4 linked regions of the Homo sapiens genome follow. The protein of the gene in region 4 purifies or fractionates together with the protein of the main gene of each other region. This does not show direct contact. Each region holds a gene or a part of one and is shown on either strand. Other genes may lie near its edges.

Evidence for each region. Proteins that work in one complex are often made in the same cells at the same time.
Region 1: the proteins of KCND3 (region 4) and VPS4A purify together in Homo sapiens (affinity purification with western blotting, with the first as the bait; one study listed by BioGRID). This does not show direct contact.
Region 2: the proteins of KCND3 (region 4) and SEMA3A purify together in Homo sapiens (affinity purification with western blotting, with the first as the bait; one study listed by BioGRID). This does not show direct contact.
Region 3: the proteins of KCND3 (region 4) and CUX1 purify together in Homo sapiens (affinity purification with western blotting, with the first as the bait; one study listed by BioGRID). This does not show direct contact.

Annotation. Positions count from the first base shown.
Region 1 is NC_000016.10:69,309,520-69,314,551, forward strand, and holds the start of VPS4A (vacuolar protein sorting-associated protein 4A), read left to right. Parts: upstream 1-1,830; 5' UTR 1,831-1,992; coding exon 1,993-2,013; intron 2,014-5,032. UniProt on the Homo sapiens protein: Involved in late steps of the endosomal multivesicular bodies (MVB) pathway. Recognizes membrane-associated ESCRT-III assemblies and catalyzes their disassembly, possibly in combination with membrane fission.
Region 2 is NC_000007.14:84,191,588-84,196,898, forward strand, and holds the start of SEMA3A (semaphorin-3A precursor), read right to left. Parts: upstream 3,203-5,311; 5' UTR 3,000-3,202; coding exon 2,888-2,999; intron 1-2,887. UniProt on the Homo sapiens protein: Involved in the development of the olfactory system and in neuronal control of puberty. Induces the collapse and paralysis of neuronal growth cones. Could serve as a ligand that guides specific growth cones by a motility-inhibiting mechanism.
Region 3 is NC_000007.14:102,201,507-102,206,027, reverse strand, and holds part of CUX1 (Homeobox protein cut-like 1), read right to left. Parts: coding exon 3,824-4,521; intron 1,638-3,823; coding exon 1,472-1,637; intron 915-1,471; coding exon 858-914; intron 1-857. UniProt on the Homo sapiens protein: May be involved in intra-Golgi retrograde transport.
Region 4 is NC_000001.11:111,780,169-111,783,668, reverse strand, and holds part of KCND3 (A-type voltage-gated potassium channel KCND3), read left to right. Parts: intron 1-2,877; coding exon 2,878-2,979; intron 2,980-3,354; coding exon 3,355-3,444; intron 3,445-3,500. UniProt on the Homo sapiens protein: Pore-forming (alpha) subunit of voltage-gated A-type potassium channels that mediates transmembrane potassium transport in excitable membranes, in brain and heart. In cardiomyocytes, may generate the transient outward potassium current I(To).

The DNA.
Region 1 (5,032 bases), on a different chromosome or scaffold from region 4:
TCTCCAGCTGGCTCTATTCGGTGTTGCCTCACAACCAGGCTGTGTCACACACTCTTGGCAGAGATGCCACGATGCCATGCTCTCTTCAGGGTATCATGTGGAGAGACACACGAGGGCCACGCATCCCACCACCAGGGGTGTTCCCTTCGGTCGCGTAGTCAAGCTAATGTCCTCATTGTTTTCTCCTTTGTATTTATTTATTTATTTAGAGATGGAGTTCCGCTCTTGTCGCCCAGGCTGGAGTGCAATGGCGTGGTCTTGGCTCACTGCAACCTCCGCCTCCCAGGTTCAAGCGATTCTCCTGTCTCAGCCTCCCAAGTAGCTGGGATTACAGGTGCCCACCACCATGGCCGGCGAATATTTTGTATTTTTAGTAGAGACAGGGTTTCACCATGTTGGCCAGGCTGGTCTTGAACTCCTGACCTCAAGTGATCCACCTGCCTCGGCCTCCCAAAGTACTGGGATTATAGGCGTGAGCCACCGCGCCCGGCCTCTCCTTTGTATTTAATTAGCATTTTGTGAAGAGAGATTAAGGTGTGCCAATTTTTTGGTTTTTTTTTTTTTTTTTTTTTTTTTTTTTTTTTTTTTTTTTTGGAGGCAGGGTCTTGCTTCATTTCCCAGGGTGGAGTACAATGGCCTGGTCACGGCTCACTACAGCCTCGACCTCCCAGGCTCCAGCAATTCTCCCAACTCAGCTTACGGAGTAGCTGGGACTACAGGTGTGCGCCACCATGCCCAGATACGTTTTTTATTTTTTGTAGCGATGGGGGTTCACCTGTTGCCGAGGCTGTTCTCGAATTCCTCGGCCCAAGCAATCGGCCTGCCTCGGCTTCCCAAAGTGTTGGGATTACAGGCATGAGCCCCCATACCCAGCCTCAACTTGGATGTTTTTTGCCCTCCATTTTTTTTCTCTCACAGGATAGACTTGTGGACAAATGGATCACTTGCCTCTGGTGCGTTTTTTTGTTTGTTTGTTTTGTTTTGTTTCTTAATTTAGCGACGAGGTCTTACTATGTTGCCCAAGCTGGTCTTGATCCTCGGCTCAAGCAATCCTCCTGCCTTGGCCTCCCAAAGTGCTGGAATTACAGGCGTGGGCCAGTACACCCAGCCCTAGAACTGCTTTGATCATTGTATCCCCAGAAACTAGCACACAACGCTGCACACAGTAGGTGTGCATGCCTGTAATCCCAGCTACTCGGGAGGCTGAAGCAGGAGAATCGCTTGAACCCGGGAGGCGGAGGTCGCAATGAGCCGAGATCATGCCACTGCACTCCAGCCTAGGCGACAGAGCAAGACTCCGTATCAATCAATCAGTCAATCAATCCAAGCAAAACAAAACTGGCTTTGAACAGTCAGCGGCATCCCACCAGGGATTGAGCCCCAGTGTGGGGCACACTCTGTTTACATTAGCTAGCTCATTTATTCCCCACAAAAGCCAGACAAGGCAGGTACTAATTATGATCGTGCGATATTAAACATGGAGAAACCAACGCTCTGATAAGTTCGTTTTATTGTGAGAATAAAACTGCTCAATGGGCGCTGTTATTCCAAGCGAGGTCAGGATTTCCGGATTCTACCCCGCTCCGCCCCTGGCCCCGCCCCGAGAATGTACGTCCCGCCAGGCCCCGCCCCGGCCTTGTCCCACCCACCCCGTCCCCGCCCCCTGTCCGTCTCGCCCTAGTCCCACCTCCTCGTCCCCAGTCAGTCCTGCCTCTCGAACCGCCCCCTGCCTTCGCCGAGGCAGGGAGAGGTGCCTGCAGTGCGAGCCGTGGACGCTAGGGGGCAGCCGCTCGGCTCGGGCCCGACCGCTCTGGGCTGCGCTCCTCGCTTGCCCTCGGACTCGGCTCCCGCTGCGAGCGGCCGCCCTGCCCGCGCACCGCGCTCAGCGCCCACCGCCGGGCTTCCCGCGCCGGACCCAGTACCTCGGCTCCCCGGGGCCGGACCGAGGCCGCAAGCAGCGCCGCGGGGTGTGGGGCGGACCCAGGAGATGAAATGACAACGTCAACCCTCCAGGTACTTCGTGCGGCCCGGCCCGACTTCGGAGGCCGAAGGCAGCGGGGCCTGCGGGCCGCAGAGCCGGGCGGCGGGCGGGTGGTCAGGTGGGCGCCTCCCAGCCCCGGCCTCGCGACCCCGCTCCGGCCGCCCCCTCGCCGCTTCCGCCCGTGTCTGTTTCCACGCGCTCGGAGCCGGGTGGCATCTCCACCCTCAGGCCTTCCGGCCCTGCCCGGCTGGCCCAGCCCCAGGGCCGCTTCGTGTAGCCGGCGCCCCGGTACCGCCGTGGGGATCAGCCTCACCCGAGCCGCACAGGCACCCTCAGGAAGCTCGGCCCGGGGTCCGGCTGGGCGTTCAGACAGCGATGCTCGCTCCCTCCTCTCCTGTCTCGCTCCCTCCTCTCCTGTCCCGGGTCCTGGAAGTCCCTCGACCTCACTTCGAACAAGCCCCGGCCCCTTCCCCAATCTTCGACTTCCTCTTCTCGGCCAGCGACCCTTCATTCATTCCCTAGATCCTGCAGGGTGGTGCTGGGATGGCGCCACCTGGGTGAACAACTGACCCACCCTCTAGGTGCTGTCAGTCCTGCGGGGCCAGAAGAGATCAACATGCTCAGGCCTCATTCCGGGGTTTGAATCTCAGCTCTGCCACTCACCAGCAAGTGACCTTGGGCTAGTTTTTTTTTTTCATCTTCGGGTCTCGAGTTTCCTGGTCTGTAAAATGGGGTAATGCCCTCTAGGTTGTTGTGATGATAGCTTTAAATTGAATAATTACGGTAAAGCATTCTTGTATGTCTGGCACATAGTAGGTGTCCATTAAGTGACAGCCAACAAAGTGCCTGGGAGAGTTAGGCAAGACTTCATGGAAGAAGGGACATCAGAGTTCCAGTAGCATTCAGAGACCTGGAGGTGGAGGAGGGCAGAAGTAGGAGCAGACATGGAATGAGTTGGGGTACCAGGTTAGGAATTAAGAGTCCATAGCCAGATCCCACCGTACCACCAGCAGAAGCCGCAGATCCCGTCTGCCCAGGCAGGTTTTTTATGGCCCGTGAACCGAGAATGTTTTTCAGTTTCAAACACAGGTGTATTTATTTATTTTTAAATTTTATTTATTTATTTTTTTGAGATGGAGTCTCACTCTGTCACCCAGACTGGAGTGCAGTGGTGTGATCTTGGCTCACTGCAGCCTCTGCCTCTCAGGTTCAAGCGATTCTCCTGCCTCAGCCTCCTGAGTAGCTGGGATTACGGGCACCCGCAACCACGCCCGGCTAATTTTTGTATTTTTAGTAGAGACCGGGTTTCACCGTGTTGGCCAGGCTGGTCTCGAACTCCCGACCTCAGATGATCTGCCCACTTCGGCCTCCCAGAGTGCTGGGATTACAGGTGTGAGCCACGGGTCTGGCCTAAACACAGCTTTATTAAGGTATAACTTGCGTGCTTACCATATAACTCACCCGTTATATATTTTTGTTTTTATTAATTTTTTTTTTTGAGACAGTCTCATTCTGTCACCCAGGCTGGAGTGCAGTGGCACAATCTCAACTCATTGCGGCCTCCGCCTCCTGGGTTCAAGTGATTCTCCTGCCTCAGCCTCCCAAGTAGCTGGGATTACAGGCACCTCCCATCACACCCAGCTAATATTTTTTTGTATTTTTAGTAGAGACGGGGTTTCACCATGTTGGCCAGGCTGGTTTCGAACTCCTGACTTCAAGTGTGATCTGCCCACCTCGGCCGCCCAAAGTGCTGGGATTACAGATGTGAGCCACTGTGCCCAGCGCAACTCACCCATTTAAAGTGTATAATTCAGTGCTTTTAGTATATTCATGGTTGTGTGACCATCACCATAATCACTTTTTAGAATATTTTCATCACCTCCAAAAGAAACCCCTCACCCACAACCCCTCTCTCTCCCAGCCCTGGGCAACCACTGCTAATCTACTTTTTTTCTCTGTGGGTTTGCCTACAGAGAAACCCACTTTATATAAACAGAGTCATACAATAGGTGGTCCTTTGTGGCTAGCTTCTTTCATTATGACTTAACATAATGTCATAGGTTTTTACATTTTTTAAATGGCTTGAAAAACAGTATTTCATGACACATGAAAATCCTATGAAATTCACATTTCAGGGTCTATAAATAAAGTTTTATTGGAACACATCCCTGTTCGTTTATTGATATACTGTCTACAGCTGCTTTTGTGCCATCAAGGTAGAGTTGAGTCGTTGCTACAGAGATTATCTGGCTGGCAAATCCTAAATTATTTACCATCTGGTCCTTTACAGTAAGCATTTGCCAGCCCCCATTAGCACTCTTTTCTTTCATCCTCATCTTTTGCCATACGTGTTACTAGAGATGCGGCGGGGCTGGCAGTTTCTCACCTTACCCTCCTGTTCTGTAAAACTGTTTCTCTCCATTGAAACTTGGACCCCCTGTGTGTGAAAAACTGTATGTGGCTGCCAGAAAAGTCCAGTGCACTCTTTTTTTTTTTTTTTTTTTTGAGATGGACTCTTGCTCTGGTGTGATCTCGGTTCTCTGCAGCCTCCACCTCCTGGGTTCAAGCAATTCTCCTGCCTCAGCCTCCCAAGTAGCCGTAACTACAGGCACGCGTCACCACACCCGGCTAACTTTTTGTATTTTTAGTAGAGATGGTGCTTCACTGTGTTAGCCAGGATGGTCTCAATCTCCTGACCTCCGGTGATCCGCCCGCCTCCGCGTCCCAAAGTGCTGGGATTACAGGCATGAGCCACCGTGCCCAGCCCCAGCACACTCTTAGGTGTATTACTAGAATTTCCAAAAGGAGGGAGGGGATGGGTCAGTGCTGCTCCTTATGGGACAAAGAATACCTTCAGTATTGTTCTAAGGATAGACCCAAGCATGAAGCTACAGAGAGTGAAAAAGTCCAAGGTACTGGGGGTGTGTGTTCTGGAGACGAGAAGCCACCAGGGAGAGGAGCGCTGCCTTCCTGTCTCATCTGAAGGAACATCATGCAGAAGAGGGCAGACAAGGGCAGCCTGTGCCTAAGCTCATTTCCAAGAAGGTTTGG
Region 2 (5,311 bases), on a different chromosome or scaffold from region 4:
AAGTGAAATTTGACTAGTTTTGTAGAAGAAATAAACATTTATGCATGGACCACTTTTTAAAAGAAGGATTTTACCATTTAGCTATATTACATATATTTAAAGAAGACAAAAGTATTTCTGAGTAAATGTTTCTTAAGGATAATTTCTATGTAACTGCTGAGATTTACAGAGTTCTCACATTTTCTTCCCCCATAAGGATTCTAAATCAAATTGGTTCAGAGGAAAAGCCAGCATACCCCATTTTTCTAATATTATCACTTCTCCAGATGGTCCTGAACACATCTATTCAATTCCTTTTTCCTAGAAAGTAAAGAGGTATCTTATTAGATATGTACACCCGCTACAAAGGCCACTTTCCTGTTTTTACTTCTTTTTAACATGTCAAGTCTCTTTCATCTCCTACCAGGCAAAAATGATAAGTAGAAAGTAAGCACAGTGATTGCCAGAAACTTCATCTTGGCAACCTGAGCAATGAGAGAGTTAATGGTGGATCTTTGAAAACAAGTGACCATGGGAAATTAAGGTTGGCAGGGATTTAACTCTTCATGAATCATGCTGGAATATTTTTAAGGGCAATGCAGTGGATGTTTTAACTGTGTTTGACATCTAATTAAGGAGAAACAAGAAGTAGCTTTAAAAAAATCTCTATTGTACTTTAGAAACAAAGTACTGGCAATTGGCTACCACATACTTGCTTTGGCCAAACAAACGTACATGTAGAGACAAAAAGGTAATGACAGATTAATAAAATAACAGAAAAAAATTTCCTCAGGCCATTCCTTTTATTCTTCTTCCTGTTGTTCATTTCACAGTTTATTTTACCAAATTATTAAGCTCTAGGTGTATCAATGGGATTGTTATGTAGCTGTAAAGCAGTTTTTTACTTAAAGGAAAGCAGAATAATTCTAATGGATGCCATCACTAAAACAAGGCTTATAAAGACAATATCAAATATATACACCTTGCTAATATATACTGCTTGCTTCATCAGATAGGTTTAAGGCATATGTGTACAACAAAGGATATTCAAATTAAATGTAATATTTTTAATGTACAGAAAGAACAAGTGCCTCCTCTATCATGGAGAGTAACCTATTATCATGGAAATAAAATTCTTGCAAAATAAAAAAGTTTAATTCCCTATTTTTATTTTATTTTAAAATGAATTTAGCACTTAGATATATTCAAGCCTAGCAGATTTTTAAAATATATATCATGATTTTAAACTTGTTAAACTAAAAGTATTACAAATAGCCAGTCACATCTTTGAGAACTAAAGTTGCATGTAAAACTTATAGGGAACATAAACTTGGATAAAGTGGACCATCAACTTAGACTTATTTGATGTCACCTTGTCAAGGAGTGAAAACAGAAAGCAAAACTGATAAAAACACAGACACCATAATATCATATACTATGGAAATAATTTAAAGACAGTTACTAAATTAATTAAATAACGCTACATGATTTTTTAAAACTTACATAAGTACAATTGCACTTCTGTTTGTTGATGTTTAAGTCTCTATTCCCAACTTGATACTCAGGAAAACATTACACCAAAAAGTAAATAGATATTCTAATTCAATGCATTTCATTTAACGAGCACTAAGTCCAAAGAAACACATTACTAGGTGTTTAATTTTCTAATTCAAAGTGTGAAAATTACATCTCTCTTCTGATTTGAGATCCTCATTCACACTAGGGCATTCAGAAAAAGATGTTCCCCATCATATGAGAATTAAAGAATATGTTTTGTGGCATAAGAGCAAGGTACAGTAGACAGACATCTCTACAAATACCTTCAATAATTTTTATTTTAACTTATAGGCTAAAAAATAAGCTTAATTAGAGCTTCTCACTGCTCCACCCCCAATTTTAGAAATCTGAGAATCATAAGAAATCAACACCTTAGGGAGTAAAACTACTTGAGTTAAAACAGTTTAATCTTCAACTCCATTTTAATAATACCTGAGTTATAGAAAGATTTACTGCCACTAAATGTATGTATATCATTTTGGGCTCTACTTTAGCATTACTTTACACATCATCTATCTATAAGACCTATCTAAGCAAATGTGGAACAAACATAAAAAATCCTCAATAAAAATAAGCACATACATTAAATTGTAACCAAATAAAGCACTAGTGATAAAGCTCTTTTTTCTCTCTTTAATTTATACTTTTCAAAAGAGAAGTTTACACAACTACCTATGCAAGCAGACAGTAATGTGTCTGCAGTTCTCACTGAAGTACATATAGAATTAAATAACATAATATTTCAAAGACTTTAGCTTTACACAATTAGCCAAATACAGTCTTTTGTACAATCATAAGGCACTGTGGAAAAACTAGTCTGTTCCATCCAGTTTATGTTCTCTTGGCAAACCATGATCTACTGCTTATGTTAAGCATCTGATTGTCAGATTTGAACAAACTGAATATTCATGATGACGATTAACCATTTCATGTCTAAAACTAAGAAAATGCAATTCATCATAGTAATTATAGGTAAGGCATGCACATCTACAAAGAGACCATTTTTGCATTTCTATTTTTAAGAAAATATTTTAATAGAATTAAAGTCGGAAAAATTAACAGGCATAAGATAGGATAATAAGATATACAGATCAGCGTGTACCAGGCATACAGCTCTTTTCAGCAAATGTGATTAAATGTTCTTTGTTTGCATTTAAGTTGTCATATATCAAACAGAAGACATGCTTTTTACAAAAAGCGTTTAAAGCATCTCAGAAAGATACACATAATCACGTCGGTTTACCAGGTTAAACTAAAGGTTTGATGATTTGGGGTTGGGAGGGAGTTCAAGGAATTAAGGGGGGGGGCGGTTATTACAAAGCTAACCAAATAAAAGAAAAATAAGATTTACCTTTGTAGGATAATTTCAGCCTTGGCACATTGTTCTTCCCATTCTGATAGTTTGCTCTTGCTGTAAGTAATACTCCCCAGAAAAGACAGACAATCCTAGTTAACCAGCCCATGCTGCAGACGCTGTAGGTCCCTTTGCTGCTTTAGTCTTCCTTCCTGTATTGTGCGGCCAGAGAAGTTCAAACAATCTGGAAACTGGAGGTAACAGGTGATTTAGGTCAGTTTCATTCATAAATGCAGACAATCAAGACCTCATGGCAACACTAACACCTCTTCTTCTGTAACAGTCACTGAAGCACAGAAACTTCAAACCCTCCAAAAAGAAAAAAAAAAAAAAAAATTCCGAGCCAGGCACCGGATAATGAGGCACAACTGTTGTGTGGAAAGAAAAAAAAAAAAAATTAACAAGGTCTGCTGCAGTGGTGCTTAAGAAGCAGTTCCTTTTATCTAAGCTCCTCTGATAGCCGGTGGCAGTCTCTAATCCTGCTCCCTGCTTCATTCGGCTCCGGGGAAGCAGAATGAAAGGGAAACAGAGAGAGAGAGAGAGAGAAAGAGAGAGAGAGAGAGAGAGAGAGAGAGAAACCGTGAGCAGCGCGGACTTTTCCTGTACGCATGTAGAGGGAGATGACACAAGATCCCACAGACAGGTTTCCCCAACACTCACTAGACTGGCTGACAATGGGAGAACAGGCGAGCTCAACCTACTCCCCTTCCCTCCTGTCACACAACACATGCAAAAAACATCTCGTAGAGATTAGAGCCGGGAGCAGAACCCTCAGGCGTGCCTGTGAAAGGCATGTAGCTATAAATTTACTTCCCAAGGCAAGCGTTGTTTTATAGCCATTTTTGGGTGCAATTTTGATTTTAAAAATCTGAATTCTGCTACCTACAAAATTTACAATTCATGCTCATTATACAATCCTGCTGAACTTGTGCATTGTATGTGTGCGTGTGTGTGTGTGTGTGTGTGTGTGTGTCTATATATCCTCATCAATACAACTTTAACCACTGAAGGTTTTAAAGCCTTGTTAGAGATCATTCCCTCCTCCCAACAAACCCCCTGGGCTCAACCACCCCCTTCCTCTGTCCCACTGCAATTTCAGGGAAGAAATTCCTACTAAAGCCCATTCCAACAATCAGTTCAAGACAAATATAGGTCCTTTGAGAATTATAAATTACAACGGGGGATTCTCAAAAGGATACTCAGAATTTAAAAACGTCTATGGTTTTCCAGCTTCTGGAATGCTCTGGCTAACATTTTCAATGCATCACATCTCATTAATTAAAGACACTTCCCTAGTTTTGGTTTAAAGGGCAGCGGAAGATGACAAAGTTCACAAAAGTCCCTGCTGAGTGTCAAGGAGTAACATGAAAAGAATATCTCTGTGTCTTCATGAGCTGCTGAAGGGTTACTAAATTTTCTGTGGGACGTATAGGCATGTATTCAGGCAGTCATATGAACACCATTAGTTCCTTCTGAAACAAGTAGTTGGCTGTGGCCTCTCAATTTTCTCTCTTATTTTTCATTCAGTTTTCCTCAAAGCTGATATTTTTACAAGAATCTTTAGGGGATGTATAAAAAAGTTAACAGGACAGAACTTTCTCTCCTTTATTCCCCAAATGATTCTGCCCTACCCCCTCCTACCACCACTCCCCACCCCCCACCTCCAGAACAGCACTTGGAATCCAGAGACTCAACTTCAATAGTAGGGAAACTTCTTGGCTGAAGGGAGAGAGTGAGTCTCACAATTAAAAACATAAACACCTACTGAAAGTGGCTTAGTATTCTTAAGAAAATGATCTAAGCATTGTCACTACAGCTTTCATTACTTAATGTCCACAGACCAATAGAGAAAGCACAGCGCTCGCTCGCTCTGCTTTCTCTCTCTCTCTCTCTCTCTCTCTCTCTGTCTCTCCCTCTCTGCCGTTGGATGTGTGGCTTGTGTGAATGTAGGTGGAGAAGGAGGAAGAGGAGGATTTAAAGAGGGGGAGAATGGGGAAAAGGGAGTAGGAATTCTCTCTCTACTTCACTAGATTGACTCATCAAACAGATCTTATTGTATTTGTCAGTTTCCTCAAGCCTATTGATCAGCCAGTATTGTTAAGAAAATAAAATCCAAAAATAATGTTGATTTTACTGATTCCCACACTTGTTATACTAGGCACTTTCACGCTCTAGGCAATGGATTAAGGCTACAAATGACAAGAGGCTTGTCTGTCTTCCATGGATTACTCTCTATAGACATTCATTCTGCAGAGGAATTCATGTCGCTTTGGGATTATTTCAAGGATTGGACTAATGAATTATCCTATTGAAATCTCACATATAATTAGTTTAAATGCTTTAAGTAGTTTTACCATTTTCATTAGTATATATTTTATATGTCTTAAAATATATTTATATTTTTACTCTTGTTTTCTAGAA
Region 3 (4,521 bases), on a different chromosome or scaffold from region 4:
GGGATATGGAGACGAATCAACATGTTTAGAAAAATACAGAAAGGGAAAAAGAGGACCAGCTCACAGTGCTGGCTGTTCCTAAAAGCTGGCTGTGAAAAGCTCAGCTCCAAGTGTGGGATTGGCGCACGAGAAGGGAGGCGGGGGGGCGCAGACGAGAGCCTGGGAGCCGTGGCCATGGGTCAGCCTCGGTGGGCTGTGTCCAGGCACCATGTGGCAAAGAGAACAAGTGTGGTTGGAGACCTCGAGGCTGTGAAATGCAGACAGGAAGGAGCCCGAGTTTCTCAGCCTGCAGCCACCACTCTCCGCCACCACCTGCTCCCAGGCTCAGATCTCAGTCCCCAGCTCTCCATTCGTTCACACCTGAGCTGTCTTCAGGGGCTTCCTGGCCATTTCCTTTCTGCTACCCTACCTTTCCCACTGCTCAAGCTCAAAGCTCCCCATTTTCTTGCTCAGAGGCTGCCTGGATGTCTTCCGGTTAGATAAGAAGTCCCCCGACATGACCCCACCAGGAGAGGGACGTGTGCCCGTGCTTTATCCCTTCCTATCAGACGGTAAGCCCCCTGAGTGGGGAATCTGTCTCCGACTTAGACCCCAGCCCTGAACACAAGGCTCTGGGCCGACAAAGGATGACAGTGGGCGTGCAAATCTTGGCAGAGTCCCTCCATGCACTGTCAGCTCGCTCTCCATTAGAAACTGACACAGAGAGGGACCCCGTTTGCAGATAGGATGCCATATTTCAGCTCCCCAAATCCAGAATGTGCGGTCCCTCGGAGTCTCGCCGGGACAGACCACAGCACGGGACAACAGAAAAGGCAGTGAGACATTTCATGCAAAAGCAACAGAAACTGGCTGCTTACCTGAGCTCACACAGCCCTGCTGCAGCGGGTCCTGGAGCGATGTCACGGAGTGGAGGACTAAAGTAGAAAAAGGTTATAATTAAAGGAAGGAACGCGGCCCAGGGCTTAAAGCTTCCTAACTGAATGTGGCAAGGCCCGGGGAGGCTTCCCATTCCTCCTGGGGAGGGGCGGGCATGGGGACCCACGGGCCGGGGAGGCGCTGCTGTTGCAAGGCCAGGCCCCCGGGCCGGGAGCAGGTGAAAGGTTTCGCCTGTGACATCTTCCACTTTTGTACCTTTGGCTGACTTTCTTTCCTGACTCCCTGATTCAGCTACTTGACTTTTACCTGTATTTATGTATAAACAGCATTTTTTAAATTGGTAACTCATTTTCTGCTGCTTATAAAATTAGACAGGCATGATCTCTCCTAAACACTGAAGTCAGTCCCACGGCAACAGGTTGTGGAGGAAGGGGACGGTTCTGTCCCCCAGCACCAGCCCACGGTGGGGAGTGTGGTTGGCCACCTCCTGGGGCGGAGTTCCCTCCTCCCTCTCTGCATAGCCCAGGTGGGGCTGCTGTGACCAGGTCCTTGCTATGGGGGGGCAGCCCCTCTCCTGTGGCAGGACCCCCATTACCTGGCCCTTGCTGCTGGCCCTGGACGGGTAGAACACCCTGGCCTAGCTCGCCGTTCAGCCAGAGCTGCATCCGGATGAAGGGTTCTCGGCCTTTCTGCGTCAGCTTGCTCCATGGCTTCGGTCGGGACAGCATGTCGCTGACGCTGCCCTGGGACAGGCCCAGCACCTGGAGTGGCACCGAACACACAGGCCATCAGTGCCTGGCTATTAGCATGACACCACAGATGCTGCTGCAATGCACACCCACCACGCAGAGGGCGCGTCTAGGGCTGACTTCTGAGCACAGAACCACGGCCTGGTGGCGGTGACAGCTTGTGGGCAGGGAATATGCATTTAAAGATCAACGGTGGCTGAGACCCCGGCACAGGGGGACTTTCGGGTGAGCCATGGTTACAGCCACAGCTCTCAGCTCCCAGGGAGGGAAGAGGGTCTCATCCCAGGGTCTTGATCCTGCCAAGATGGCAGGGCTGTCACCCTGACACCCCGCGGAGGAGGTGTGTACAAGCACCTTGCTCTTCACTTGGTGGCACCGGGAAAGGCTAAGGTTCCAGGGACAAGATCCCTCCAGAGGTGGGGCAGTGGGTGCCGGTGGGACTGGCGAAGCTGGTGTCCTCTGCAAACGCTGAGCCAGGCCAGCATTTAGAAAGGTCTGCTTGTTCTGACCACATCCTGATCAAAGGTGGGGGCCCAGAGGTGAGCTGGTGGGACCTGGGGAGCCGGCCTGGGAGTGACATTCCGCCGCAGATGATTGCCGAGTTGCGTGTACACACCCGAGTTTTCTGACGCTCCCATATGGCCATACATATGTATAGGCACAAACACCCCCCACAGGACACAGATGCCGCCCTGGGATATTTAGGGGCTGCATCCGATCACTCTTTTGAAAAGTTCTCAAGTTCCAGAATAAAACTGCACTCACGGGCCAAACAAGTTCAATGTTATTAAGTCTCTGCTAAATTTAAGGCATGAGCACGAATGTCTATTTCAATGTTCTCAAATGGTATTTTTACAACACTGAACTAGAAATCTCAAGGGACTTGAAATACTCATCCTCATTTCTAGTCGCCCCCCTTCACCTTTTGCAAAATCAGGGCAAAGTTCGCCATCGGACACCACCGGGATTCACAGCACAGCATACGGCAAACACTGAGTGGAAGGCGGGGTGGGGAGTGCGGGGACGGCGCCATGCAGGGACCCTGGCTTGGCAGGGGAGGGGGTGGGATTTGTCCCCTGCTGATCCAGCCACGTGCTCCCTCAGGAAGGTGCCTTTTAGGGGAGAGGGGTGCTTCTCCTTCTATTCAGCACTCCGTTATTTAATCTAAAATGGTAGGGGGTTGGGAGGCCAAGGCAGGCAGATCACTTGAGGTCAGGAGACCAGCCTGGCCAACATGGTGAAACCCTGACTCGACTAAAAATAGAAAAATTAGCTGGGTGTGGTGGTGGGCACTCGTAATCCCAGCTACTCAGGAGGCTGAAGCAGGAGAATCGCTTGAACCCAGGAGGCAGAGGTTGCAGTGAGCCGAGATAGCGTCACTGCACTCTAGCATGGGCGACAGAGTGAGACGCCATCTCAAAAAATAAATAAATAAAATGATACTAGGACATGATGTTTATTTTAGATTTGGCAGGCACGGTTAACCCTCATTCTCCTGAATCTCAGTGACCAGGAAAGTGCCAAGAACAGAAAGGCCTAGAAGCTCGTCCATGCACGATTACACTTTCCTGAGCCAGGGAAGGATGATAGGGAAACACGGGCCACCCTGCTTGGGCCATCCCCAAGCTGTGTGTCCCCGGGCAGGTTGCTTGACCTCTCTGACTGAACAATATCCAAGAGTTACACAGAAAGGAACAATAATGCTCTCTGCAGCTTTTTCTAGTAAGTCCCTTTTGGCTCTCTGCGTACTGGTGGTCCCTCTGTGTGATCAGATGGGATTTTTTTTGGCCAAGGAAGCCTGCAGGGGTGCCTCTCAGCTCCCCTTGGCAGCAAAAGCTGGATGTGGACTCGGCTGCCGGTCAGCTTGGGGCAAGTAGTTAACGTCCCCAAGCCTTGGTGTCCTTCCCTGTCAATTGGGGATTTTACCATCCACTTCCCAGCGCCAAGTGAGGGGTCGAAAGGGCAGCATGCAGGTGAAAGGCTGAGCCTAGAACCTGGCTGCAGTCGGGGCTCGGCAAATGGGATCGGGGCTGCAATGTTCACCAGCCGCACCTTGGAAGTCTGGGAGCAGAGGATGCCTTACGCTCTGCTCTTGGGTGAATTGAAATGGGTGAGGGTCACAGGCTGCGGGATAGATACTTGGTCCTCAGCAAGGAGAAGAGATGGGAGAACCAAAGCCCCCAGAGCAGATCCCTTACCTTCTCCCCGAAGATTCTCTGGCAGATGCCGTTCTTGGCCAGCTTTTCCTTAACCTGCCGGGTGAGCTCGATGGTGTCCACCTCCTGGTACATGTAGACCTCGTACTGCTCGGGGGTCAGCGGGGGGACCGAGGGCTTGGTGGGCTTGGACATGGGCACGATCGGGGAGGATGGCAGGGGGCTGTTCTGTGGTGTCTCGCTGCGGCTGGCCCCGGTCAGACTCAGCTCTGAGCTCTGGGAGTATGGGGACTCAGCGCTGGGCCACTCCTTCCAGTACTCTGACGACGAGGGTCCCTGGAGCTGACTGCGCTCGGCCCGAGGCTGGCTGCCACCTCCGCTGCCACCGCTGCCCTTCTCTTTCCCGCCGCCCGTTTCTTCGGCCTTGGCCTCCTCGGAGGAGGCGGCATTTCTTCTCTCCGGCTGCACCGCGCTCCACCAGTGGTCCTTCCAGGCACCGCTGCGGCCCACCTCATTTTTCACCTGTCTCAGGACCCCTTGTGCACAATCGGCTGCTCCCTGGGGGTCCAGCCCGGGGGCGTCCTGGGCCTCCTTTTTGAGGGCCGGGGGGTTCGGCAGAGCAGAGGCACCGGCCTCAGGAGCTGCGGAGGGCTTCTTCAGGGAGATGGCGAGAGGTGGGTAGCTGGACACGGTGGGCATGGGCGAGGTGGACAGAAGCTTGGGGGTGAGGATGGTGATGT
Region 4 (3,500 bases):
ATGTCCCAGAATGCAATTTCCCATGTTTTGGCCTTTCCATTTCTTTCTCTTTCTCTTCCTTCTGCCTCTCCAACAGCAAAAGATAGAAATACTCATGGTTAAAAGGCACCCATCAGCCAGACAGGAAGAAAGTGCTTAATTGTGAGAGGCCTCCCAAGGATTGATAGAAGTATTGGCTTGAACATAGATGGTACCTGCAACTGTACCTAGGGTAGCAGCATTCTCCTTCCAGATCCCCTCTCCTCCAACCCTGGAGTCTCCACATTTGTTGAAAATGCAATCTCCTGGGCTTTGCTCAAATTTTGAAACTTGTCTGATGGTGGAAATTCAGGGAAGGAGGAGGAGAATGTTCTGGAAGCATCATTTGGTCTGAAAGTTGGAGGTCCTGAGCTGAAGTCTTGATCGTCCACTGCCTTTCCCTGGATAAGTCACTTCCCTCACATCCTCCTTTTTTTTTTTTTTTTTTTTTGTCTTTGAATTGGTCTGGATGATCTCCAAGCTCTCTTTTAACTCTCACATTGTTCTTAAGGCCATGGAAGAGGGTGAAGTTGACCAATCCACTCAAGGATTGAGCCCATTACAGTGGCAGTATAAGCATGGCCTTCCAGCCAACTCACATAGGATCTTCTTCCTTCCTCGGCCATCATAAACTTTGCTTGAGCACCTGTGCAGTGTGAAACCCTGTGTTGGATGTTAGAGATAAAAATAGGTATAAGCCACAAGCCCCAGCCCCCAAGAGCTCAAAACCAAGCCATAGAGCCCCACCAAATTTCATATTCTGGGTATGGTTATGTAAATCCATTGCAAACCTCTTTGTCCTGTGTGGGAAGAGATTAAATGATCTAGTACATTTGATATGACAATCTGTTGCTTTAATAGAGCCCAGGGTAAGATATGATTAAAAGAAGTGCCACAAAGAAGAACAGGAGAATCTTTCATCTCTAGAAACTAATGAAGACGGACCCCAGATACAAGAACGGTCTGGCTCCAAGTGGTGCAATCAAATTATATAAGACTATAATAAGCTTGACACAATTGGATTTCCATATGAAACTCTCAACACCCAGCACTCACCTAAAGCAATTGCAGCCACATCCTCAAATGATGAGGAACTTGCTTGAATGTAAATATCTAGCCAAGGGGAGGGCTGGAGCAGGATTCCCATGGAGTAAAACTGTCCTGGCCCCCTAGTCAATGTTCTCTGCTTGTAGAGAGGAGGAATGATAGGGCTGATTTGCCATCATCCTTTCTCTCCCAGGTCCCCCTTTTTATTCTCTCCTTCATCAAGAGGAGCAGTCTTCCTCAGACTTAAAGGAAGATCTTTCAGGCTCAAGTCCTGGCCCCTTCCCCACATTTAGAAGCCTGGGAAGGGAGTTGAATTGTTTCTGCAAGGAGATACTTCCCAGGAAGCAAGAGATATACATCCTTTGTGCTTCTGTTGTCCACCTGAACCCCTGAGACTGTGGCCTCCTTTTAGCAGATGAACCAGCCCAGCAGGACACTTGGGGAGAGGGTGACAAGAAGTGGAAATTGCCACAATTTCCCTAGGACTCTTTTCCTGCTTAGGGTCCATGCTGAAGTCACATGTGGACTTGCTCAGAGCCAGGAGGAGGGACCTTCTACTCCAGGATGGGTCTGCTATCCTTGTGGGCTGTTCTGCTTCCAGTAGCAAGCACCTGGGGCTGTAAATAGATTTACAGAGCCCAAACCTCAAGCTGCATTTTTTTAAACTAGCAAGAAACCTCTACCCAGTCCCTTCTCCCTCTCTCAGTCTCATTCCTTAGTCCTCTCTCTTTGGCTGTGCTACTGTCATAGTGACAATGATTACAGTCATTAGGAAGGAGAAGGGCAGCCAGCATATGTAATGTGTTCAGCTTCTCCCTGTGCAAGCAGGAGAGATGAGCTTGATACCATGCAGCCCTCCTGCATGGTATCAACATGGTGATACATGGTGAAACCCCATCTCTACTAAAAATACAAAATTAGCTGAGTGTGTTGGTGGGTGCCTGTAATCCCAGCTACTCAGGAGGCTGAGGCAGGAGAATTGCTTGAACCCAGGAGGCAGAGGTTGCAGTGAGCCGAGATCACGCTACTGCACACCAGCCTGGGTGACAGCGAGACTCCGTCTCAAAAAAATAAAAAAACCATATACATGCATGAATCTACTCCCAAAGACAGATATACAATTGTAAATGTGTTTATTAACTTTAAAAATCGAGAACCTACTGTTTACTGGGGGTACATCAGTAAACAAGGCAAAAACTCCTGCCCTCAAGGAATTTACATTTTAGTGGAAGAGAAAGAGAAAGTATCAAGAAAAATATATAAAACATATATTTCCTTAGTAATACGTGCAAAGAAAAAAATTGCAGAGGAGTTAAGAAGCATTGAAGAGCACATAGGCCCACTCCTTGCTTTTCTCATAATTAACTAATACTTGGGGACCTACTATATGCAGAAAATTGTACTGGACCCTAGAGGAGAATCAGGGCAGCTATCACATACACTCCTCTAAGGAGTTTGCAATTTAGTTAGAGATAAGAAAACTGAGGAGCACAACTGAATAGCACATGGCATTTTGCAATACTGAGTAGATAAAGGTCATGAAACCTTTGGGAGAAGAGAGCTTGGATGAGTGATATTTCTCCTGCCAGGATTATACCCGGGCTGGAGAGATGAGTGGAGACTCCTGGGAATTCTGACCCAACCAAGCTATACAAAGTGGGTACACAACTGGAGATGCATGAGGTTGGAGAGAAACAGCCTCATCCCCTTCATCAGGTGTCACCTGGGAAGCCAGCCTCACAGCTTCACCAGCCTTGCTGTCTTTTTGTATCATGGTCTGCCTCATTCTTTTATTATCTCTGCCAATCACAGAAGGCCCGCCTTGCCAGGATCCGTGTGGCCAAAACAGGCAGTTCGAATGCATACCTGCACAGCAAGCGCAACGGGCTCCTCAACGAGGCGCTGGAGCTGACGGTAGGTGCCTAGAGGACCTGGGCTAGGGAACATAAAGGGGTAGATGGGCTTGTTTTCTCTTTCCCGGGACACCAGCACTCTCACCAGAGCCCCAGTATGAACCCCAAGGAGGACACGTTTCCAAACTTTCCCCAGGTAGCAGCCCCCCATTCACACACCACTTCCATAGGATTATCACCACTACCTCTAAACCAGGTTTAGACCAAGGGCCCCTGAGCCCAAAGGTTAGCATATTCAATGCTGACCCTGAAATTTGGTCAAATAAAAAAAAATTTGATTATTCTATTGCCCTTTGACCTTTAGTGGAGAAATGAAGGAGCTGGAGAGGGGAAGAGCCACCAGCTTTTTACTCAATCTCTCTTCTTTTTTTACTAGGGCACCCCAGAAGAGGAGCACATGGGCAAGACCACCTCACTCATCGAGAGCCAGCATCATCACCTGCTGCACTGCCTGGAAAAAACCACTGTGAGTCCCAGCCCTTTGCCACCTCCTTTTCATCGCTGACCCTGACCCTTTTCTAA